Homo sapiens: one gene and its partners. The protein of the gene in region 4 interacts with the protein of the main gene of each other region in a biochemical or structural test. Each region holds a gene or a part of one and is shown on either strand. Other genes may lie near its edges.

The links.
Region 1: the proteins of GOLPH3L (region 4) and C1GALT1 form a complex in vitro, tested with the Homo sapiens proteins (one study listed by BioGRID).
Region 2: the proteins of GOLPH3L (region 4) and FAM20B form a complex in vitro, tested with the Homo sapiens proteins (one study listed by BioGRID).
Region 3: the proteins of GOLPH3L (region 4) and CANT1 form a complex in vitro, tested with the Homo sapiens proteins (one study listed by BioGRID).
Region 5: the proteins of GOLPH3L (region 4) and PGAP4 form a complex in vitro, tested with the Homo sapiens proteins (one study listed by BioGRID).
Region 6: the proteins of GOLPH3L (region 4) and GOLIM4 form a complex in vitro, tested with the Homo sapiens proteins (one study listed by BioGRID).
Region 7: the proteins of GOLPH3L (region 4) and GALNT6 form a complex in vitro, tested with the Homo sapiens proteins (one study listed by BioGRID).

What each region holds. Positions count from the first base shown.
Region 1 is NC_000007.14:7,234,544-7,238,043, forward strand, and holds part of C1GALT1 (glycoprotein-N-acetylgalactosamine 3-beta-galactosyltransferase 1), read left to right. Parts: intron 1-18; exon of another isoform or gene 19-1,836; intron 1,837-1,842; exon of another isoform or gene 1,843-3,088; intron 3,089-3,500. UniProt on the Homo sapiens protein: Glycosyltransferase that generates the core 1 O-glycan Gal-beta1-3GalNAc-alpha1-Ser/Thr (T antigen), which is a precursor for many extended O-glycans in glycoproteins.
Region 2 is NC_000001.11:179,063,894-179,067,393, forward strand, and holds part of FAM20B (glycosaminoglycan xylosylkinase), read left to right. Parts: intron 1-33; coding exon 34-205; intron 206-411; coding exon 412-603; intron 604-2,906; coding exon 2,907-2,966; intron 2,967-3,500. UniProt on the Homo sapiens protein: Responsible for the 2-O-phosphorylation of xylose in the glycosaminoglycan-protein linkage region of proteoglycans thereby regulating the amount of mature GAG chains.
Region 3 is NC_000017.11:78,996,265-78,999,764, reverse strand, and holds part of CANT1 (soluble calcium-activated nucleotidase 1), read left to right. Parts: intron 1-1,478; exon of another isoform or gene 1,479-1,617; intron 1,618-1,801; 5' UTR 1,802-1,925; exon of another isoform or gene 1,926-2,120; 5' UTR 2,121-2,142; coding exon 2,143-2,773; intron 2,774-3,500.
Region 4 is NC_000001.11:150,662,655-150,666,154, reverse strand, and holds part of GOLPH3L (Golgi phosphoprotein 3-like), read left to right. Parts: intron 1-2,391; coding exon 2,392-2,523; intron 2,524-3,500. UniProt on the Homo sapiens protein: Phosphatidylinositol-4-phosphate-binding protein that may antagonize the action of GOLPH3 which is required for the process of vesicle budding at the Golgi and anterograde transport to the plasma membrane.
Region 5 is NC_000009.12:101,480,674-101,484,173, reverse strand, and holds part of PGAP4 (GPI-N-acetylgalactosamine transferase PGAP4), read left to right. Parts: intron 1-2,667; exon of another isoform or gene 2,668-2,811; intron 2,812-3,448; exon of another isoform or gene 3,449-3,500. UniProt on the Homo sapiens protein: Golgi-resident glycosylphosphatidylinositol (GPI)-N-acetylgalactosamine transferase that catalyzes the N-acetyl-beta-D-galactosamine transfer from an UDP-N-acetyl-alpha-D-galactosamine to the 4-OH-position of the first mannose of the glycosylphosphatidylinositol (GPI) of a GPI-anchored protein (GPI-AP).
Region 6 is NC_000003.12:168,033,425-168,036,924, reverse strand, and holds part of GOLIM4 (Golgi integral membrane protein 4), read left to right. Parts: coding exon 1-89; intron 90-3,500. UniProt on the Homo sapiens protein: Plays a role in endosome to Golgi protein trafficking; mediates protein transport along the late endosome-bypass pathway from the early endosome to the Golgi.
Region 7 is NC_000012.12:51,356,907-51,360,406, reverse strand, and holds part of GALNT6 (polypeptide N-acetylgalactosaminyltransferase 6), read left to right. Parts: intron 1-1,074; coding exon 1,075-1,275; intron 1,276-2,145; coding exon 2,146-2,277; intron 2,278-2,956; coding exon 2,957-3,058; intron 3,059-3,500. UniProt on the Homo sapiens protein: Catalyzes the initial reaction in O-linked oligosaccharide biosynthesis, the transfer of an N-acetyl-D-galactosamine residue to a serine or threonine residue on the protein receptor. May participate in synthesis of oncofetal fibronectin.

The DNA of each region.
Region 1 (3,500 bases), on a different chromosome or scaffold from region 4:
GGTTTACTTTATTAAGCAGTAAACATAAGCAGTATTTTAGTCTAAATTTTGTCATATTCCTGTCTGTATCTGTTAATTAAAATGGGCTATATATTCCAGATATTAAAAATAATTCTTGGTTTGCCTCAAGAGAAGGGAATTGCTAAAACTCAGATTTATTTAGGGAATAAGATATTAATTTTGAATTCGTTTTTAAGTAGAAATAGTTCAGAACCCATGATTTGGGGAAGGGCATAACTATTCAGATTTGATTTGTTTCTGAAAATGTTTTTCTAGGTTCAGTTTTGTTATATGTGTGTCTTTGGTTTTTGTTACTTGTTTTGGTCATAGCTTTTGCTTAAGTCTTGTTTTCCTAGAGAAACTTGAGGTGTATGTAAGTTTCGATTTATATTTTTATAATTAGTTAATAGAACTAATCTTTTTTTTCCTCAAGAGGCACAAAGAACAAGGAAGTTAAAAACCAAGGATGCGTTCTAAAGACTTCATTTTCTCCTAGCCTCCTACCTCTAACCAGATTTTCTCAGTTGAGTTATTTATGTGTCCCTTAAGTGTTGGTTCTCTCCAAGTTTCTGTCCTTTAGCTGTTTGTCTGTGTGACATCATTAACCCGCATAATTTTAATTTCCTTCTATTTCTTACTGTCTTTAGCCCAGTTCCAGACATTGTGAGGTGACATTAACACAATGCAAAATACGGTTTGACAGAAAATAATATAAGTAGCTTGAAAACAATTGGAATTCTGGGATGCAGAGGGTCCACTATTCAGTTTTTTCTCTTCTCTTCTCAGTAGTAAATTATTTCTTCACCACCTCTCAAGCAGAGGTTGAATGGTGAGATTTCAAAGCCTGGTTCCATTTTATCAACTAGCAAACATAAACATACTATTACAAAGTATGTCGTGTTTTGTGATTGTTTATGTAACAGTAATTCAGCTCTGAGCAAGTGCTCTGTGTTCCTACAGAACAGTTTGGTCACTGTGTATTTGCTCTGTAGCATAGCCACATGTCTTTAGGTGATCAATTGGAGGCAGAGTTCCCTACTAATAGTAAGCCGTACGAGGCCTCACTGCAGGCATGTGTATTAGATACATACTTGTCCAGCTCAGTGGCCTACAAAATGTGGGGTATGCTAAAAGTTTGTCTACTCCCTTCAGACTCAGCATGTGTAAATTGAGTCTCCTTTTCCTTCCTACTCCTAGAAGTTGCTCTTCCTCCTCTATTCTTTCTTTTATATGGCTCATTACCATCTGTCTGTGCCAGAAATTAAGAAATCATGGTAGGTGCTTGCCTTCACATGCTAGCCAATTCGATTTGTCAGTACATTCTAACAGTGCTGCTACTTTACCATTTTTCATCTCTTTTCCTCTCAGTCCTCAGTGCATTTCCGATTCAGGCCTTCAGCTATACCCATGTACCTGCACTCAACCAAACTTCACCATTCCTTTTGGTGAACTTATAACCTATTTTCTGTATTATGTCTTTATTTTTTAATCTTCCTCTTTGTTCTACCTAGGTCCCTATCTACTGCTCTGTAGGATTTATTAGCCACTATTTTCCTTCAGCACATTGAATCCTTTGTTCATACCTCTATAATAACATCTCTTAGTATTTAGCAATTATTGGTTTGTGTGTCAGGCTCAGGCTCCCTGAATGGACTGAATTCCTCTGCAGCAGGAAATGTGTCTTACTCATTTTTTTCATCTCCTATGCCAGCCCATGCCCAGTACAAAGCAATTAGTGAATGAAAAATTATTTATCAAGTTCAGCGGTGGACAAACCTGTCTTACCTGAATGAAACAGATTGGGGATTCCTGCATTCACTGTTCTATCCATTCAAGGTTTGGTATATTTGTATAGCCAAGAGATTGGGCTCCTCAAGGATATGAGATGTCTATGCTTTCTGACTGAAAGTAGGGTGATTTTGTCTGCTGTTGTCCTTTTGGATTGTGAATCTTGATACTCAGAGGGACATGAGAATTTTTATTTTTTATTTTTTTTGAGATGGAGTCTCGCTCTGTCACCCAGGCTGGACTGCAGTGGTGGGATCTCGGCTCACTGCAACCTCCGCCTCCCGGGTTCAAGCAATTCTCCTGCCTTAGCCTCCCGAGTAGCTGGGATTACAGGCGCCCACCACTACGCTTGGCTAATTTTTTGTATCTTTTTTAGTAGAGACAGGGTTTCACCATGTTGGCCAGGCTGGTCTCGAACTCCTGACCTCGTGATCTACCCGCCTCAGCCTCCCAAAGTGCTGGGATTACAGGCCTGAGCCACTGTGCCCAGCTGGGACATGAGAATATTTTTATGTTCCACCCAGCTTTTCCCATTATTCCCTCTCAGTTGGTTAACTAGTATATTATATGCCTCCATTGTTAATTTCTCATAGGACTAAGCTTCTGTAACTTGCTGTTTGACCTTAATTTTAAGCATATGCTTCGTCAGGATACTGCCCAGAACATTGCTACTGAAAGTCAGTTCATAGACTCATTCTGGTCCTATAACTAAAGAATGTCTGCTTATTTGGGAGTAAGCAGAAACTTTTATTGTAATTGGAGTAATTTTGTCTGAAGCTAAAAATAAAAATTTAGGACTTGTTTTATATTTTAGTTTTATTTTTCTTATAATTCATTTTTATCCTATTTACACAGTGTAGACCTCTTTTAGAAATAAAAATTGGCCTTTCACCACAGATAGCTTGGGAAGTACTCATCTAGAATCTCATCATTGAGCTCTTCCTCTGTACCGGTGCTACTCAAAATGCGGTCCTGGCCTGACACTTTGTCAGCTGTTTGTCTGCACAAGATAATGAGGTTACACTAGGATGTAAATCAGTTTTACGCTCACTGCTTACTTAAATGGACAGTTTTAAGTTTCAGTTTTAAGCTCACTGCTTAGTTAAGTGGACATTTTGATTGGTTGGTTCTGATAGTAGGCCTTTTTCAAAGTAATGTGTTGCTTTCTGTTCTGGTATAAGCTCCTTATTTCTTTGCAAACCTGTAGTTTAAAGAGCACTGCTCTAGACCATCTTGGAATTCCCATGTCTACCATTGTTCTCTTCTGTTTTTGATTGGTGGATTTACATTTTGGAATGAGGTATGTGACTATCAGAAAGTAATCTCAACTCCTGTGCTTTGACCTTTTACCACCTCAGGGTACTTGTAGAAATTCTTAATAGTGGATTATTGTGAACTTCAAAAATGAACTGCCACTTCAGCAGCATGTCTTTCCTGCTCTTCAGAAACTCGTTCAGAGCAGTGAGAAATTTCTGTCAGTAATCTATTAAAAACTGGCTGCTTTCTTTTATGAAGTGCCAAGCAGAGACTATTTAAGGCAGCATTTAGCATGCCTATGAAGCACCAGGAGAACTTATTAAAATGCTGATTCTGAGTCAGTAGGTCTGGGCCTAAGATTATGCATTTCTAACAGGCTCCCAGGTGATGCTGCTGCTTTTAATCAGTAAACTACAGTTTGAGACGAATTTAGATTATAATGTCAACTCTTACTA
Region 2 (3,500 bases), about 28 Mb from region 4:
CTTAAGTGTATTTGGCTCCTTTCTGTCCTTTAGGAAACAATACTTGTTTTTATGGGAAGTGCTATTACTGCCGAGAAACAGAACCAGCTTGTGCTGATGGAGACATAATGGAGGGATCTGTCACACTTTGGCTTCCAGATGTGTGGCCTCTGCAGAAGCACCGTCACCCATGGGGCAGGACTTACCGAGAAGGCAAATTGGCCAGGTAAATGCTCCTATGAGCCATTACTTAATTCTCCCCTGTGCCTAGCCAGGTGCCAACTCTGTAAAGGAGCCAGCAGTTCTGTCCAAGAGTGAAAAGAACTGTGGAGTCAGGGGCAAACCGGTAGGTAGGAACTCTGTCTTCTCTTTGTGTGTAACAGTGCCAGGTACAGTGTTGTCACTCAGTGCTGTGATGCTGCTTGTCTCCAGGTGGGAGTATGATGAGAGCTACTGTGATGCTGTGAAGAAAACGTCCCCTTATGACTCTGGCCCGCGCCTCTTGGACATCATTGACACAGCTGTCTTTGATTACCTGATTGGCAATGCTGACCGCCATCACTATGAGAGCTTTCAAGATGATGAAGGCGCTAGTATGCTCATCCTTCTTGATAATGCCAAAAGGTGAGACCAGCAGGACTGTCCTTGTCAGGGAGGGGTTTCTGTATATGAAAGAAGGGCATTTTCCAGAGCATCCTGGAGAATATCCAGAATGCAATTGATAGGCAACATCCTTCTTTTTTCCACTTGGAGTCTTTGCTATTGGTACCTGTCCTTCTCTCCACTCTCAGGGATCTCAGTACTTCAAAAAATGGAAAAGTGGTTCTTCCAAGGAGTCTAAGACTCTATGAGCCTCTTCTCAGACAACTGGAAAACCAGGGTTATTCATTTGTTACTACCTACATCGTTCTTTCTTGGCTATGATATTTGGTGTTTAGAAGCTTGAGAAATACAGATGTAATAGAGTGTGGAATTTGTCGTTAAATTTATTCTATCCAAAGGTTCCTGCAATTAAAAAATTAATTTATTTGGTAGGATGTTTTGCTATTTTTGTGTTTGTCTAGGTCCATACTTTTGCTGTCATGGGAAGAAGAGCTGTTGCCTAGTGTGGATTTTATATATAACAACAAGTTACTTTTATCTTGAATAAAAAATGTTTATTCATTTTGAATAAATAGAATGTCCTTATTTTTTTAGGCCTGAGCTATTTGGAGAGCACATTGTATTTCCATTTCATATTCTGCATTCTCTGTGGTGGCCGGTTTAGTGCCACACTTTTTTTTTTTAAGTTTTTTTGAGACGGAGTTTTGCTCTGTTGCCCAGGCTGGAGTGCAGTGGCACAATCTCAGCTCACTGCAACTTCTGTCTCCTGGGTTCAAGCGATTCTCCACCCTCAGCCTCCTGAGTAGCTGGGACTACAGGCACTCGCTAATTTTGTATTTTTAGTAGAGACAGGGTTTCGCCATTTTGGCCAGGCTGGTCTTGAACTCCTGACCTCAAGTGCTCTGCTTGCCTCGACCTCTCAAAGTGCTGGGATTACAGGTGTAGTGCCACACTTTTAGTTGCATTTAATAAATATTTACTAAATAGAACGCTTCCTTGGAGTACAGAATTTTCCAGGCCCTAGGTCACTACTGTTAACATTGGTTGTTGGAAATAAGCTAAGACATGGCTCCTCAGCAAAGAGTGCTTGGGCAGCATTTGCTAATGATGCCACCATCTTATACTGAACACCAGGCGCCTCATGCTTTGTGAAAGATGGTGATGGCCACAGAAAATGAAAAACCAGCAAACACTGCCTCTCCCTCTACCCCATTACAGCAAAGCACATAGCACTCATCCTGTGATACACATGATACTTGATATTTGGTGTATATCAAAATAGTTGCTTTGTCCACTCGGGCCGCTATAACAAAATCCCTTAGACTGGGTAATTCATAAGCATCAGAAATGTATTGCTTACAGTTTTGGAGGCTGGGAACTCTAAGATGAAGGTGCCAGCAGATTCAGTGTCTGGTGAGGGCCTGTTTCTCAGATGGTGCCTTCTATGTGTCCTCATATGGCAGAAGAGGTAAACACGCTCCCTCTGGCCTCATTTATAAGGGCACTAATCCCGTTCATGTGGGCTCTTCCCTCGTAACTTAATCATCTCCCAAAGGCCCTACTTCTTAATACTGTTGGACTGTTGTACCAGGGATTACGAATTTGAGGGGGACACAAACATTCAGACCATAGCAGTTGCCTTTGCCTTGAATTACTGGAGGACCTACACTGTACTAAGGGCTACCAGACTCTAGCTATTAAGGTGAGCCTCTGGAAAGATTGAAAGGTTGACAGTTTTCCAGAATCAGTTCTCCTTTTCTAACTCTGAATTGCTGCTAAGGTAATTTTTGCATCTGCTGTGAATCAGTTTCCTCAGCCTGTGTGAACAGTTTTTCCAATTTGAATCTGTACTTATACTTACTTGTAGGGAATAGGATATTGCTAATTTGGGAGTAGAATAAGTGTGACTTCTTTTTACAAGTAATGGTCATCTGCTTGTTTGTGGGAATCTAATATAAATGGCTTTTATTTCTCTCTGGTCCTTAAAACCTTTGCAGGCTTAGGGGTCTTCAAGTTCTCCCTTTGGTCTGTGAACTCCGCACTGTGTTTACCATAGTTATGCTCCAGCACCTTGTGATATCTTGGCAGGAAAATGTCCCTTGTAAATGAGTATATTTGTTGTCAGATATTTTAGTACAGGCTGTTAGGGATCCTGTGTCTAATTGGTCATGCCCCGCTTGTTTTCAATTTAAGTGATTTGAGCTGCTGGAGCGTGAAATTATCTAGGATCACATTTGAGTTTCATATAGAATTTGCTATTGCTTTGATGCTAAGAAGAGAACAGTACTTCCACCTAATTCACTAAGTTTTAATTTAATTTTCAGCTTTGGGAACCCCTCGCTGGATGAAAGAAGCATTCTTGCCCCTCTCTATCAGTGTTGCATGTAAGTTATGCACAGCAAATACATGTGCCTGCATTGCCTTCTTTTCCAGGCTCAGGTAACAGTACATCCATTTTCTTGGCCCTCAAACTTTCTGATACCTGAGCAGTGCTTTTCATACTTTTCCAACCTAGAACCTCTGGACATCCTGAAATGGGATATCAGGGAAAGGTGAAGGCAGATAACCCAAAGCTCAGAATTCATCTCAAATTTTGTATGAATAGAAGATTGTATGTATACAGTAATACATGTTTGGTTTAATAGCAGAATATAATCACCCACACTCCCCACCCCACTGCCAAAAAAAAAAAAAGGAGTAAAATCTGTATGCCTGGTTACTACACCTGGTTACCTTGTGGTTTTAACTCCTCTCACTCACCCATCACATACCACCTGGGGTTTACATATTTCAGTTTGAAATTGTCTAAACCAAAAGTAACTTTTTCCATAAATAATAATTTATTTTGGCCAGGCACAGTGGCTCACTCCTGTAATCCCAGCAATTTGGGAGGCCAAGGTGGGTGGATCACCTGAGGT
Region 3 (3,500 bases), on a different chromosome or scaffold from region 4:
GGAGAATCACTTGAACCCAGGAGGCGGAGGTTGCAGTGAGCCGAGATCGTGCCATTGCACTCCAGCCTAGGCAATAAGAGGAAAACTCTGTCTCCAAAAAAAAAAAAAAAAAAAAAAAAAAATTCGCTGTGCGTGGTGGCACACGCCTGTAGTCCCAGCTACTTGGGAGGCTGAGGTGGGAGGATCGCTTGAGCCTCAGAGGTTGAGGCTGCAGTGAGCGTGATCACTGTTGCCTGGGCAACAGAGCGAGGCCCTATCTCAGAAAAACAAAAAAAGAAATGTAGGCGGGATTGGCATAGCAGGTAAGATAGAGTAATTCGAGCTCAGTGGAGACTTCTTGGGCCTGGCTGGGGTTTTGAGGCCTTGGGACTAGAAAAGGGGCAGGGCCTGGATGCAGTCAGAGGAGGATGTCCAGCACGGGGAACCCCAGCCCTGCTGCCGGGAAGGCCCCGGTGATCAGCCCTGTGACCACCTCAGGGGGTCCTGAGAGGCCTGCCCCTTAAAGGGAGCATGGAGTCTTCCCTGCGGGCCTGGAGGAACTGCTGGCAGCCCCCCTGTGCTGTTAGGAGGATCACTCTGAGCAGCAGGTTCCACGTATGTGCCTTGTTCACTCCTTGAACCTCACCCTGGGGCTAAAACCTAGGACTGTCCGAAAGTTCCATGTGGAATTGTCACCCTGTTTTTGTATCTTCTCAGCCCAGCAGGCTGCGGCGTGGAGAAGGGGGTGTCTCTGGTGGGGGTGTCTGTTGCTGGCTGCCGTGCACCAGGGCCTCGTGGTCCACATATTTGGGGCCCAGAATTGCACGGAGCCACTGGAGTCCCCAAGCCCTTCCCAGGCGCCCTGGCAGGGAGGACAGCGTCTGCCCATAAAGGCACATGTTTGCTGCTTTGTTGTTTTCTCAAGGAGGACCCAGCCAGGGAAGCTTCTCAGGCCGGGATTCACTGAGCTATAGTTGGAGGGCAGAGATATGGAACCTCTGCCCAGGGCCAGTGTTCTCGATCGAAGCACCGGGAGCTGTCTCCCCACGCCCCACTGTGGCACTTGGCGGCTGTCCAGAGACAGGCAGCTCTCACCAAGGCGGCGCAGACGTGGGCCTGGTGCCCCATGGCTGCACTGAGCCATCATGCTGTATGCCCGGGAAGTGGGCTTGGCGACAGCAGTGAAGGGCTGCAGTTCCTGGCCGCCACCAGCACCCTGACCCTGGGGCTCTGCCACAGAGCCACGCCTGGGGTGGAGGGTGAGCTGGGAGAGGCCTGCGGCCGAGCCAGGCCCCGCAGTGAGCCGAGCAGTTCTTTGGCGCCAAGGCACAGACACGCTGGCCTCCAGGCAGTCAGGGCAGCGCAGACTCTGGTCCCTGCAGTCATTTGCATTAATAGAAAGGCGCCAGGGGACAGACACTGCCAAAAACAACAACAGATACGAAAAAGAAGGAGTGTTTTTATTTGGTTTGGATGTGTTTGGTATTCCAATGCTGCAGGAGCCTAACCCAGAGGAAGTGGAGACTCCTTTACTGCACATCTGTCTGCTCCAGGCCAGGCACTGTTCTAGGAGCCAGGATACAGAGGTGGAGACAGAAACAAACAAACCGATAACTGTATACAATACTCTAACGTCAGGTGGGGACAAGGGCCAAGGACCCAGGGACGGAGGGTGATGTCTGCAGCAGGGCAGTCAGGGAGGGCTTCCTGGATGAGGTGGCATTTGAGTAAAATACAGACCTGTACCCTGTCTATGATCCTATCCCACTTCACCCCGTCAGCCTTCCCCTCCCACCTGACTCTCCTGCGCTTCTCTCTTTAGAGGGACCACAGAGCACCAGCCTGCATGGAACTTCCTTCCTCACTCAGCTTCCCACGTTGCCAGCTGGGACAGGGGAGATGGAGTAATTTTGCTGTGGAAAGACTTCACGTCTTGCCGAATGAAAGTAAGCAAAGATACTGCTAGAGTCGGGAATCTAGAGTCGGGAATTCATTAAGCCAAGGGAGTAAGAATGGCCACAGAGTAGTGAAATACTGTTTCTTCTGGAAAAGTCAGCCTCCAGCGCCTGCAGCTTCCGGAACTAAGATGTGACTGGGCTTGCGGAGGCGCTGACTCCTCTCCTCCCTCCCTGGCTGTGCAGGTCCCGCCTGTCTGTCACGCTGATGCCCGTGCAGCTGTCTGAGCACCCGGAATGGAATGAGTCTATGCACTCCCTCCGGATCAGTGTGGGGGGCCTTCCTGTGCTGGCGTCCATGACCAAGGCCGCGGACCCCCGCTTCCGCCCCCGCTGGAAGGTGATCCTGACGTTCTTTGTGGGTGCTGCCATCCTCTGGCTGCTCTGCTCCCACCGCCCGGCCCCCGGCAGGCCCCCCACCCACAATGCACACAACTGGAGGCTCGGCCAGGCGCCCGCCAACTGGTACAATGACACCTACCCCCTGTCTCCCCCACAAAGGACACCGGCTGGGATTCGGTATCGAATCGCAGTTATCGCAGACCTGGACACAGAGTCAAGGGCCCAAGAGGAAAACACCTGGTTCAGTTACCTGAAAAAGGGCTACCTGACCCTGTCAGACAGTGGGGACAAGGTGGCCGTGGAATGGGACAAAGACCATGGGGTCCTGGAGTCCCACCTGGCGGAGAAGGGGAGAGGCATGGAGCTATCCGACCTGATTGTTTTCAATGGGAAACTCTACTCCGTGGATGACCGGACGGGGGTCGTCTACCAGATCGAAGGCAGCAAAGCCGTGCCCTGGGTGATTCTGTCCGACGGCGACGGCACCGTGGAGAAAGGTAACTGGACCCTGAGGTTTTATGGAGGTGTGGGTGGGGAGTGGGAGCTCAGGGCCTGGCTGGCAAACACAGGCACATGGTAAAGAATTCACACACCTAGAAGCCAGGGATGTGGTGAGGGAGCACGTCTCCCTCTTGCTCTGACCTGCGGCCCCCTTACCCTTAGCCAGGAGCATAGCCTACTGTCACTTCACACTGAGCAGTTTCTAGGAGGAAGAGCTTATCGCTAGAGGCCTGTGGGAGACGTGGGGAATCTCTCCAAGATGTTTTCGGCTGTATCCGCTGCTGCTCTCGGAGCCTCTGGGAACACGCCCTTTTTACACCTTCAAAGGTTCTCAAGACCACGCTAGGATGTGCCTACCAGGAGCCTTGCCCTGAAAGCCATGGGGACAGATGGTTCTCACTCAAAACCCAGACTTTGGTTTCATGTTACTGAAGGGTAAACTGCTGCCCAGCCCTCCTCTCCCTGAACCCCAGCAGGGGGAGGGCATGTGTGAGCTGTGCCAACCCCCCTGGAGTGGAGCCTGATGCCAGCCTTTTTGTTCACCAGAAAGGAGGTGCTGCTTCCACAGGGCAGGGACAGGCTTTGGGGAGGCACGGTGGCCAGTGTCTTCCTCCAGAGAGGAGCTGGGGAGGTGCCAAGGACGCTGGCAGAGGAGCTGCCAGCTCCTCTGAGCTCCGTTTGTCTGAGCTGGCGGTGGATCCCCACCTTCTAGAAAGCTAAATG
Region 4 (3,500 bases):
AACATATACCAAACAGAATAAATAAATTCATGCACAGTCATGTTATAGTAAAACTGCAAAACACCAAAAGAGAAGATCTTAAAGGACCAAAGAAAAGATACACCACCTACAAAAAAACCACAATCAATAAGAAAGATAGATTTCTCACTGCTATATTAGAAGCTGGAAGAAGAGGGCATACTATCTTCAATGTGATAACCTGGAATGATCAACCTGGAATTTTATGTCCAGAGAAACTATCTTTCAAGGATGATGGTGAAATACAAAGACATTTCAGATAAGCAAAATAGAAACTGCCTCCAACAGACTTTCACTTAAGGAAATTCTACTTTAGGAAGAAGAAAAATGGTGCCAGAAAGGAAGTCTGAGATACAGGAAGGAACGGTGAGCAAAGAAATTCGTAAGCACCTGTGTAAATCTAAACAAGTGCTACCTGTATAAAATAATAATGATGATGATGATATCTAATTTATGAGGCTAAAAAAAAATACTGGACAACTAAAAGAGTGGTTAAAATATTAATATTTAAAATTTAGGTTTTATGTTAATTTTAAATTAATGTATCATGCATGTTAAAATTTCAAGGATAACTTCTAAAAGTACATAACTTCCAAGCCAATAAAGAGGAAAATTGAATTAAAAAATTTTTTAAATAGTTATTATAGCTAGGTGCAGTGTCTCATGCCTGTAGTCTGAGCTACTTGGGAGGCTGAGGCAGGACAATTGTTTGAGCCCTGGAGTTCAAGTCTACAGTGAGCTATGATGGCCCCACTGCATTTCAGCCTGGATAATGGAGCAAGACCCCGCCTGTCTCTTAAAAAAAAAAAGTAACCCCAAAATATGCACAACTATGATCTATCAGTAAAACACCACCAAAAAAACAACCACTTAAAAATTTCTCTATTTAGCTTCGTGACCTCTGTTATGCTGTATAACCTCTGTAAGCCTTAGTTTTCTCATCTTTAATGTGTGGGTAGTAGTAGTACTTCCTTTATAGGGTTGTTGTGAAGATATAATCAGATAATGCATGTAAAAAGCTTAGCACAAATCTAGTACATAATAAGTATTAGCACATATCTAGTATATAATAAGTATTCAATAGACATTAGTAATTAAACGTTACTGCTGTTAGACAATACCAGTGGCTCTCTTATACGTATATTCCCTATACAAAGGGAAGGGGAGCTAACATTTTAAGTGCCTGCTATATGCCAGGCACTATACTAAATGCTTTCTTATATATTGTATCTCATGTAACCCTCATAACAATCTTATGAAAATATATATTGGTGTCTGCATTTTATAGATGAGGACAATGTACTTCAGAAAGTTTAAGTAACATAACCAAGGCACTTAATGACAGTGGGTTTCTATTATACCTCCCATCAAAAGAACTTCAAATTGGCTGGGCACGGTGGCTCACTCCTGTATTCCCAGCACTTTGGGAGACTGAGGCTGGTGGATGACGAGGTCAGGAGTTTGAGACCAGCTTGACCAACATAGTGAAATCCCGTCTCTACTAAAAATACAAAAATTAGCTGGGTGTGGCAGTGCACACCTGTAATCCCAGCTACTCAGGAGGCTGAGGCAGGAGAATCGCTTGAACCTGGGAGGCGGAGGTTGCAGTGAGCCAAGATCACGTCACTGCACTCCAGCCTGGGCGACAGAGCAAGCCTCCATCTCAAAAAAAAGAAAAAAGAACTTCAAATTAATACATATCTAGGAGGATTAAAAGCTCAAATGCTTTTTACTTTTTTCTGACTTATTTTACCCCACTCTGAAATTTTGTGTCATGGAAACAGACTTCAAAAAAGCCAAAATTCTCCTCAAAAATTAAAATTTTGCATGTCAAACCAGGTGCAGTCACTCATGTCTGTAATCCCAACACTTTCGGAGGCCAAGGTGGGAGGATAGCTTGAGGCCAGGAGTTCGAGACCAGCGTAGGCAACATAGCAAGACCTTGTCTCTACAAAAAAATTTTTTTTAAAAACAGCCAGGCATGGTGGCACATACCTGTAGTCCCAGCTACTCAGGAGGCTGAGGTGGAAGGATTGCTTGAGCCCAGGAGGTCAAGGCTGCAGTGAGCCATGATCATGCCACTGCATTTCAGCCTGGGGGAAAAAGCGAGACCCTGTCTCAAAAAAAAAAATTGCACATCATTTATTGACTAACAGCAAACCATGGAAATTCACTAAAGATCTTGAAGTCAGACAGAAAATCATATTTGGGGGTGTTTAAGAGGATTAAAGAAACATCCTCTTACTCTATACTTTGAGTTCATGTAGTATGATGTGAAACGAATCACAACAAAGCGGCCTGTTCTTAGGGTGCCTGCTGGAAGTCAGTATTCCTCTCAAAACATTCTTTCTCTTCTCTTTTCTCCTTTCCTAGGGGTACACATCTTTCTGGAATGACTGCATATCATCAGGCCTGCGAGGGGGCATCCTGATAGAGCTGGCCATGCGGGGTCGAATCTATCTGGAACCCCCGACCATGCGTAAGAAGCGACTACTAGACAGAAAGGTACTGAATCCTCTGTGAACGTCCATGGCTTATGGAAAGGCAAATACCAACAGTACATTTGGGAAGAATAGAAAGATTTGAGTAGTAAGATAAAATAAATATCACTGACTCAGCAGTTCCATTGTCTAAACAGGTTAATTACCCTATTGCAAGAGGGAGAAATCAAAGTATCCATAGTCCAAAGAGTTATAGGAAGCTCCTGGTTTTGTCTTCCTTTTTTATGCAGAAAAATCATACTCAGGATGCTGTTGATTAAATTCCTCCTATATCTATAGCTATAACATTATGAAATAGCCGGGCACAGTGGCTCACGCTTGTAATCCCAGCACTTTGAGAGGCCGAGGCGGGCGGATCATGAGGTCAGGCGATTGAGACCATCCTGGCTAACACGGTGAAATCCCATCTCTACGAGAAATATTTAAAAAAAAAATTAGCGGGGCATTGTGGCGGGCGCCTGTAGTCACAGCTACTCGGGAGGCTGAAGCAGGAGAATGGCGTGAACCCGGAAGGTGGAGCTTGCAGTGAGCCAAGATCCCGCCACTGCACTCCAGCCTGGGGGACAGTGCAAGACTCCGTCTCTAAAAAAAAAAAATTACGAAATAGAGTATGATGTAGGGAGAGGGACTCATATGGGTCAGGTCAGTCATTGATTAACCCTGGTTATTCTCCAATAATATTCTGTTTCCTTCCATTTACTGCAAGTCCTTTCCAACCATACTCCTGTATCCATTTTCTTACTGAATTTTTCCACTCACAACTTCTTTATCATCCTAAGCACTCCACTTAAACTACATTCTTAGGTATCACCAGCTTCTTTTCAGTCTTTGATTTATTTTTCTCTTTTAACCTATATGTGTCATTTGACACTTTTTATCACTTTGAAACTTTCTTCATTATTGGCCTTTGTTATTATCTTATTCTCTTGCTTCTCTGACTATACACTGTTTCCTTACTTCTCCATTTCTTAACATCCAAGT
Region 5 (3,500 bases), on a different chromosome or scaffold from region 4:
ATACAAAACAGCACTCAACATTTCTTATCCATCTTTGGTAGCATGTGTTGGCATTTCTGCAGAGTAGATTCCTAGAAGTAGGATCGTTATGTCAAAGGGGATGCACTTATAAAATTTTTATAGATACTGCCCCAACACCCCAACATTTCCTCCAAAGATTGCACCAATTTATATTAAAGTGCCTAGTTGTTGAACTGTGACACTCCCTCGAAGTAAATTAAATTCAGATGTTAAATATAGAGATTAATTATGGAGAAAGGGAGCTCTATTACCAAGTCTTTCCACCTAAGCATTATTTTTCTGTTTATTAATGACTTTTTAATTACCCTTTGGTAGAATTTTGTAGTATGTGTGTATATTCTGCATATTTCTGAAATTTATTTCTAGATATTTGAGTTGCTTATTTTTTTCCCTTTTGACTGGGATCTTTTACTCCCTTAGTTCATTGGTGATCATGTACATGAAAGCAGTCATTATAATATAGATAATATAGATACAGATATGGATATGTAATGCATATATATAGTACATGTGTATATATACTTGCTATGTATATTATATATTATTTTTACATATTAATTCTGGTACCAACCATGTTTTGAGTCTATTGCCATTTCTAATGGTTTTTCAGTTGATTTTCCTGGGCTCCAAATTTATGTAGGCAGTAGTGCATATTGGTTGAGAATGTGGGTTCTGGACACAGTCTGCCTGGGTTCAAGTTTTGCCACCCTGCTTAAAAACTTAGTTTTCTAAAGTATAAAATGGGCTTAATAGTCATACTTCTTGGAGGCTTTTTATGAGGATCGATAGATGAGATGCTTAGAACAGTGCCTGGCACATAAGTGTTCTGGAAACATTTACAAATAAGTCGATCTCTACACAGTATATGACCAGCTCTTTGATACTACCAATTTTATAGCTGAGGACCTGAGACCCATAGAGGTCAAAAGAAGCCAATTATTTGCTTAACAAGCATTGAGCATCTTCTATGCATAGTTCTGTGCTGGGTCTGTGAGGGATACCAAAGATAAATCAGACTGAATCTACTAAAAAAGGATTCAAGAGTCCAATCAGATCGTAAGTCAAGGACCATAAACAAGGCCATGGAAGACAACAGGCATCATAGAAAAACATGAGCTTTGAAATTTATCCTTGTCCTTGAATTTCCTCTTGCAACTTGGTAGCATCAGTTTTGTCAACTAAATGGGATTAATTCCATTGCTATTTTGAGAGTTGCTATTTTGTTCAGAAGAAATAGATGCAAGGGTCTAGCACAACATTGGGATATGTAGTATGGCCTTAATAAGCGGTAGCTATAAATAGATGAGTCTGAAGTAGAAAGTGACAAATGAATGCCCTGGAGGAAAAGTTCATAGAAAGGGCCCCAGTACTTGAGGGGAAAAAAAGAGATTCTTTCTGGTTGGAAAGGTCAGGGTTGGGTTTTGGAAGAGGTACCTTTTGAGCTAATTCTTGATGGTTGAGTTAGACAGTGTGAGGAGCAAAAATGCAGCTGGGAAGATAGTTGGAACTGGATTGTGAAGAATCTTGGCAAATAATTTGGACTTTATTCTACAGTCATGGGGGAATCATTGAATAGTTTTACAGAAAAGAGTGCCATGTTCTGACTTATGCTTCAGAGTATCAGATGGATGCTGATCAAGTAAAACATCACCATCATTTGCACAGTGTCCTATGCCTGACAAAGGGCTATCATAGCTGTTGTCTCTTCATCGTCACAGTCTCACTGTGTTGCCAGGCTGGAGTGCAGTGGCATAATCTGGCTCACTGCAACCTCCGACTACCTGGTTCAAGCGATTCTCCTGCCTCAGCCTCCTGAGTAGCTGGGATTACAGGCACGTGCCACCACACCCAGCTAATTATTGTATTTTTAGTAGAGATGGCGTTTCACCATGTTTGCCAGGATGGTCTCGATCTCCTGACCTCGTGATCCGCCTGCCTCGGCGTCCCAAAGTGGTGGGATTACCGGTGTGAGCCACCGCGCCTGGTTGAAGTATCTTTTATTTTCCTGTTTCACAGAGAAATAAAATAGGCTCAGAGAGATAAATGATTTTTTTATACAAATTGATCAAATTAGTGAGTGTTGGGACGAGAATTGGACCTAGATCTTTTGGCTTGTGTTGCTCATTCTGGAGGTCAGAAGCTCTGTTAGGAGCCTGTTGCAATCAGCTGGCTTGGAGGTGCTGAGGAGGAACTAGAGTGTGGCAGGGAGGAAAGCTTGACAAGGGGAAGGCGAGGGGAAAAGAGAGGCATAATAAAAGAGGCCGTAGAGGTGGGATTAGGAAGTGACTGCGTGGAGGTGAGAAGTTAGAACTAACTAGTGTTTTAGACTGAGTTGCCTGGGAAAGTGGTCGTGCCATTCATATAGTGGATTTGGGAAACACAGAACATTCTTGAGCACTCATCCCCTGACTCACACCCTGGTATTGTGTCTTCCACACCCGTGGATCCTTTAGTTTAATTTTCAGAAGTTGCACTAAAATATAACTATTGTTGTAGCTCCATTTATTCATCTAAGCCCTAGTTCATGTTCATTTCTCAGAGTCTGTGTCCTTTACTGTCTTCCCTGAGCCCTACACTCTAGATATGGTAACAGGTAGAGAATTCTGTTTAGGGAAGGGTTGTGTTTCAAAGAGCACATGCAAAGCATAGATAAGAACTGGATATGTATTGTTCTGTAGAATCGGAGCTGTAATGGTGTAACTGTTATTAGGTCAGCTCATAGGTGCCAGTCAGTCCACAGTGTCTCTGGAGTGTGGGCCTCAGCCTGTGACATCATGGGCAACTGGAATTCTGGAAAAAGACAATCAGAGTGGTAACATAGACATAGCCCTCTTGTCTCACCCTTATGATTGGGCTGGGAGTAAAAAAACTCCTTCCCCAAACTAGCAGTGAAAAATCCTATGTTTTTATATCTGTTCCCCTAAGGCCATTTATCTTTTATCTTTTTTTGTTTGTGTGTTTGTTTGTTTTTGTTTGAGACAGGGTTTTTCTCTGTCAACCAGGCTGGAGTGCGGTGGTGCGATCACAGCTCACTGCGGCCTCGACCTGCTGGGGCTCAGGCAATCCTCCTGCCTCAGCCTACTGAGTAGCTAGGACTACAGGAACATGCTACCATGCCTGGCTAATTTTTGTATCTTTTGTTGAGACTAGGTTTTGCCATGTTGCCCAGGCTGGTCTCAATCTCCTGGGCTCAAGCCATCCACCTGCCTCAGCCTCCTAAAGTGCTGGGATTACAGGCTTCAGGCACCACATCCAGCTGGCCATTCTTCTTAAAACCAGATCAGTAAGGTGAAATAAATTATAGGTGCCATTGGACACCACAGGCTACTGTGCAACAATTGGTTAAATCTTTTAAAAAAATGTTTTAAAAAGTAAACAAGAACATACTCCTGAATGACTACATAACTCCATGTGGTTGGATTTTCAGCAAAGCAGTCATCTAATCTTGAATGAAGGATCTGATCCCAGCTCCTGTGTCC
Region 6 (3,500 bases), on a different chromosome or scaffold from region 4:
CAGCAGAACAGCAAAATGTGACCCAGGTGGCACATTCTCCACAAGGTTACAACACAGCAAGGGAGAAGCCAACCCGAGAGGTGCAGGAGGTAAGGGGCGTGAACTGGTAATCTATGGTTAGGTCACTTTCTCTGTCAAGTTGCCAAGAGGGGACCTGCTTTTAATATTGCCAACTTTTCTGGGAGAGCAGTAGTTCTCAAATTTTAGTATATCAGAATTGCCAGTAGGGCGTGATAAAACACAGATTACTGGGTCCCAGGCCCAGAGTTTCTGATTTAGTTAATTTGGAGTGAGGCCTAAAGATTTGCATTTCTAACTGATTTAGCTGGTCTGAGTAGCAAACTTTGAGAACTGCTGCTAGTATTTTCTTTCTTTTTTTCTCTGAGACAGTGTCATGCTACGTCGTCCAGGCTGGAGTGCAGTGGCACAATCTTAGCTCACTGCAACCTCCGCTTCCCGGGTTCAAGCAATTCTCCCTGCCTCAGCCTCCCGAGTAGCTGGGATTATAGGCGCCCGCCACCACGCCTGGCTAATTTTTGTATTTTCAGTAGAGACAGGGTTTCGCTATGTTGGCCAGGCTGGTCTTGAACTCCTGACCTCAGGTGATCCGCCCGCCTTGGCTTCCCAAAGTGCTGGGATTATAGGCGTGAGCCACCACACCTGGCCGCTGCTAGTATGTCTGAGAAAGGCTTTAATGGCTTTGTCTTTATTCATGTAGGTTTATTTGTCTTCAAGGAGTTGTAGTATCTGAGTTTTTCAAGGTTGGGGATTTTGCGGGGGTTAGGGTGAGAACGTTAAATGATCATGAGGATTTTATGTGACAGTCAACCCACTCAAATATTAAAGTTAATAATATATTTTAACTTGGAGCAGTGCTAGGTCTACACAGAGCATGTCAAAATTTGAATTAAATGACCTGTTTGACACTCCTACGGGTATGAGTGCTAGTCAAATAATACACCTTTTTATATTCTTGTTCTTTATAAAAATTAAGCCTTAAGAATATCTCATAAGTGAGACATCAGAAGTAGTTACCATTACCACTAATTTCTACAAAGGTTGTTTTTTTTTTTTCCAATCATCTGTAATAAAAAAATAGGCAATATGGTTATCTTTCTGACAAAGTGGTTGTTTTAAACTTTTAAGTTCAGGGGTACATGAGCAAGTTTGTTACGTAGGTAAACTGTGTCATGGGAGTTTGTTGTAAAGATTATCTTATCACCCAGCTATTTAGCCTAGTACCCATTAGCTATATTCCTGCTCCTCTCCCTCCACCTTCTGATAGGCCGTACAGTGTGTTGTTCCCCTCTATGTGCTTATGTGTCTCATCATTTAGCTCCCACTTATAAGTGAGAACATGTAGTATTTGACTTTCTGTTCCTGTGTTGGTTTGCTACAGATGATGGCCCCCAGCTCCATCCATGCCCCTGCAAAGGACATGATCTTGTTCTTTTTTTATGACTGCATAGTATTCCATGGTGTTTATGTATCACATTTTTCTTTATCAAAGTCTATAATTGGTGGGCATTTAGGTTGATTCCATGTCTTTGCTATTGTGAATAGTGTTGCAGTGAATGTGTCTTTATAATGGAATGATTTCTATTCCTCTGGGCATATACCCAGTAATGGGATTTTGCTGAGTCAAATGGTATTTATATCTTTAGGTCTTGGAGCAGTCTCCACACTGTCTTTCATGATGGTTGAACTAATCTGCACTCCCACCAACAGTGTATAACCATTCCTTTTTCTTCACAACCTCGCCAGAATCTGTTATTTTTGACTTTTTAATAATAGCTCTTCTGACTGGTGTGAGATAATATCTCATTGTGGTTTTGATTTGCATTTCTCTAATGATCAGTGATGCTGAGTTGTTTTTTTTTTTTTTTTGTATGATTGTTGGCCACATATATGTTTGTGTTAGTCCGTTTTCATGCTGCTCATAAAGACATACCCTAGACTGGTTGATTTAAAAAAGAAAGAAGTTTAATTGGACTTACAATTCCACATGGCTGGGGAAGCCTCACAATCATGGTGGAAGGCCAGGAGGAGCAAGTCCCATCTTCCATGGATGGCAGCAGGCAGAGAGAGAGAGCTTGTGCAGGGTAACTCCTCTTTTTAAAACGATCAGATCTTGTGAAACTTGTTCACTATTGTGAGAGCAGCACGGGAAAGACTTGACCCCATGATTGAGTTACCTCTAACCGGGTTCTTCCCACAACACGTGGGAATTCAAGATGAGATTTTGGTGGGGACACAGCCAAACCATATCAGTGTCTTCTTTTGATGTGTGTGTTCATGTCCTTTGCTCACAAAGTGGTTTTTAACATTAAAGAGAAGACTGAGAAAACTTTCCTCCAAGTTATGGGAATAATTAAGTTGATATGAGTAGACTTCATATATGAGCCTCTTCACTCTGTTCAGGGTATTCCTTCAACAGACAGGTTCAGTATCTTCATGGACTCTTATTCTTTCTCAGGCTCTTATGTTAATAACTAAAGAGAGCATGACCAGATCACTGGCCTGGCAGTTGGTTCTATTTTCTGCCCTTGTCAGACTGCCAGTTTACTGGATTAATCTTCCAGTGACTCAGATCTTCAGTTTTTCCATCTCTGAGGTGGAGATAGGAGTTATCTGCACTAACCTTCCTCACTAGGATATTGTGAAGATAAATGACAAGTGTTTGAAAGTACTTAGAGCTCTTTAGAGAAATATTTTTCTGTAAAGCCAGGGCAGTATTATGTCAAACTTGCCAGATATGTGAGGATGTCGGTGGAATGTGCAACTCCAGTTGTCCTCAAATGTCTGAGAAAGGACTTTTCTCCCCAGTTTATTAATACAGTCCAATTTCTCAGATTTGATAATTATATCTCTGCTAATTTAAGAATAGGATTTCACATTTATTTCAATTTTGGGAGAGCAGTCTAACCAAAGAAGATTTTTTTTTCTGAAGGTTAAAGAGAAAAAAAGAGTGACGTTTGTTTCTGTTGATATACTATATTCTCTTTCTTCCTCACTTTCTAGGTAGTGCAGATCATATAGAGATCGCTGAAACTTATAGGGAGAACTGATTTGAGTCAACTAATTTTAGAGGAGGGTTATTCTGAAAAAGCCATTTCTTCTTTTTCTGCTCAGGGTTTTCAATATTAGCAATAAAAAATGTTTACAAAAGAGTCCTGCTGGTTTACAAATAATTACTACTTTAATACATTAAAAATATTTTATTGTATCTTGTTTAACAGGCACTGTGTTGAACTAACATGGATGTTCATTAGTAATGGCATTCTTTTTTTTTTTTTTTTTTTTTTTTTTTTTTTTTTTGAGACGGAGTCTTGCTCTGTCGCCCAGGCTGGAGTGCAGTGGCGCAATCTCGGCTCACTGCAAGCTCCGCCTCCCGGGTTCACGCCATTCTCCTGCCTCAGCCTCCCGCGTAGCTGGGACTACAGGCGCCCGCCACCACGCCCGGCTAATTTTTTGTGTTTTTTTAGTAGAGACGGGGTTTC
Region 7 (3,500 bases), on a different chromosome or scaffold from region 4:
AAGATAGAAACAGGTTAGTATGTTCACAACTAGGGCTAGAAAAAAAAAACAGATGAGTAACCAGTCATCATCCTTTTTCTGGAAAAATCAGGCTCCCCTTCCCAGTTCAAAGGACACATGCCCTGGTAACCTTTGAAGTTTCCCTACCTATGTACAATAAGCCCTTCATAACAGTCAGAGAAGATGGTGGCCCCAACTCTGGTGGACCCCAGAACTCTGAGAGATTCCAGGAATTAGGCAAATCAGGATTAGGTCAGGAAGCAAGGATTGCCTCTCCATGAAACCTACACAAATCTCCATGCCATGGAAAAGTAATTAGTAAGTAGATGAGCTCATTTATGAAGTCACCTCTCACGGTGCCTGATGCATATTAAGCACGTAATTGATGCCTGCTGTTACTATAACGATTATGTATTTCTGTTGCTGCCACACTAAAATGAATAACAACATACTTTCCCACCTAAAACCCAAAAGAAGAAACCAGTGGGAGGGATGTCTTCAGCCAGCCCACCAGCATAGAAAAGGGTCACCTGCCAGTCACCCCAACTCCCAGCGGCCCAATCCTAGGCTCCTCCATGAGCCTCTGACCTCTGTTCACCTTCCTAGGCAGCCAGTGTGCTAAGGGCCCAAGTGACTACCACTAGCCACCTAGCAGCCAACTATCCTTGCTATTAATTAACAGACTGATGCTCTGGTTTTTATCACCTGAGGGAGCTGATAAACTCACATTTCCAGGTCAAAAAGCCAAGTGATCAGAGCTCAGAGTAGGTATACAGGCACAGGTAACAAAAATTAACCAGCAGGCTTTTCCCTAAAGTGGGCCCTGGTAAACACAGGACCCTGCAGTCTCCCTGTGCTTAAGTCAGAGTGAACCAACATCAGAAAGCCTGGGATCGTGTAGTCATGGCCTAGGAAGAAGCCTGGTCGGTATCCTTTTTCCCAGGGAGAGAGAGCAGCATTTGCCCAAGTCCTTGGACCTGGGGTCTGGTGCTCTGGGAATAGAATAGAGCTGCTTATGGGGAGACTGTCTCACCTAGCCCACTGAAGGCCTCATCCTGTCTCCTCTTACATCAGGTGTGGCAGTGTGGGGGCCAGCTGGAGATCATCCCCTGCTCTGTCGTAGGCCATGTGTTCCGGACCAAGAGCCCCCACACCTTCCCCAAGGGCACTAGTGTCATTGCTCGCAATCAAGTGCGCCTGGCAGAGGTCTGGATGGACAGCTACAAGAAGATTTTCTATAGGAGAAATCTGCAGGCAGCAAAGATGGCCCAAGAGGTGAGAGGAAATGGTTCTCGGAGAGGTTTAGATGAAGAGAAGTACGGCCCCCAGACCCTGTTCATGGGCCTAATGGCTGGGACCCACCTCATCTCTACCATCTGGCGCCTCCCTTCACCCTCAGGGACCTGTGAGCTAGAGCCCAGGAGAAGGCCACAAGGCACATAGGTTTCAAAAGCTAGAGAATGTTGTCCCTACGCATAGAGTCTCTGCATCCCTTTGGAGGGGAAGGGAGGGAAAGGAGATTTGGAGGAAAAGCCTCTTACGGAGGCTTTGGAGGCTTTGGAGGAATGGCTCTGAGAGCCTCGGCACTGGGGAGTGGGACATAATTGTCTGGGGAGTCACAGGAGATGGACCGATAAGCAGGGGACTCCAAAGCTAAGGCGGGGTTTTTGGGATTGGATGTGAGGGCTGGGCCAGTATCTTTAACAGGTCCTGAGTGGGAATGAACATGAGAGACAGTAGCCCCAGGCGCTCCATGCTATCTGCACTACTTCAGCCCAGACAGGAAGGTCAAAGACTGGTGGAACTGGCTGGGTGTGGTGGCTCACGCCTGTAATCCCAGCACTTAGGGAGGCCGAGGCGGGCAGATCACCTAAGGTGAGGGGTTTGAGACCAGCCTGGCCAACATGGTGAAACCTCATCTCTACTAAAAATACAAAAATTAATTGGGCGTGGTGGTGCGCGACTGTAGTCCCAGCTACTCAGGAGGCTGAGGCAGGTGAATCGCTTGAACCCAGGAGGGGAAGGTTGCAGTGAGCCGAGATTGCACCACTGCACTCCAGCCTGGGCAACAGAGTGAGACTCCCTCTTAAAAAAAAAAAAAAAAACTGGTGGAACTGATCCTTAGGGGGCTGGCTTGATTGACAGAAATCCTTCGGTGACATTTCGGAACGACTGCAGCTGAGGGAACAACTGCACTGTCACAACTTTTCCTGGTACCTGCACAATGTCTACCCAGAGATGTTTGTTCCTGACCTGACGCCCACCTTCTATGGTGCCGTAAGTCTTGAGAACCAACCTGCCTGCCCATCACCACAGCACCCCTTGGAGAAGTTCAAGACCACTGACCCCACAGATGGATGACAAACAAGAATTGAGTTTTGCCCTGCACCCTCCTTTATCCAGGAGGAGGACTGAGAGGCCACGTTGGGGCTTCTAGAGATAGCAAAAAACCTTATAAAGGGCAAAACAACCCACAAGCAGTGGTCCTGAAACATTAGCATGCATCAGAATCACCAGGAAGGCACGGTAAAACGCTAGGGCCCATCCCCAGAGTTCCTGATTCAGAAGGACTCAGGGGAGGTCTGAAAACTTGCATTTCTCACGAGTCTCCAGGTGATGCTGATGGTCCAGGGCTCACATTTGAGAACCACTGCTTATAAGGAAACTCCCACGTGCTGAGGGCTTCTTCCAGGGACCTGGCATCCTGGGAGGTTCCCTGCCTGCCCCACAGAGGGGTTCAGTCCTGCCCTTTCCAGCCTCTGGGGCTCTGCAGCTCACTTTGCTGTTAGCTCCAGGCATGTGGGTTAACGCACAGAGGAGAGAAATGACGGGGGAAATCCAGCCATGCAAATTTGTTGCAGTTGACTGGAATTTGTTCCAGTGGGGCCCCATACCACACATGAGGAACCTCCTGACTGTGCCATCCTGCTTCCCCTCTCTGCTCACCCTTCTGCAGATCAAGAACCTCGGCACCAACCAATGCCTGGATGTGGGTGAGAACAACCGCGGGGGGAAGCCCCTCATCATGTACTCCTGCCACGGCCTTGGCGGCAACCAGGTATGCAGCCCACCCATCTCCGGAGCATCTCCTCTCCTCACCGGCTCCTTTTCTCTACCCTAAAGAGTCCTTTCCTGAGGACTGGGAGGGAGGAGATACCATCCCTGCCCTCAGGAAGCTTCCAGTCGGAGGAGAAGGCATAACACACACAAGGTCTGAATAAGGGACATCCGGAGAGAACGAGGCATCGGTGCTGGGTGTGAGAAGGGGATGGGAGGGAGGGTTGTTCATCAGAGGAGGCTTGAGGAGGCTAGCTGCTGGGGGATATTTAGGGGTGAGGGTGGAAAATTTTCCAGCACATCCCATCACCTGCACTCAACTTCTATCTTCAATGCATCCTCTGCCCAGAAGCTACCACTCTGATCCTACCACCTTCCAGTGACCCCAAAACTAGGTGCCCAGCACTAGTAAGTGAGAGGCACTGAAAACAGAGCCAGAGTGG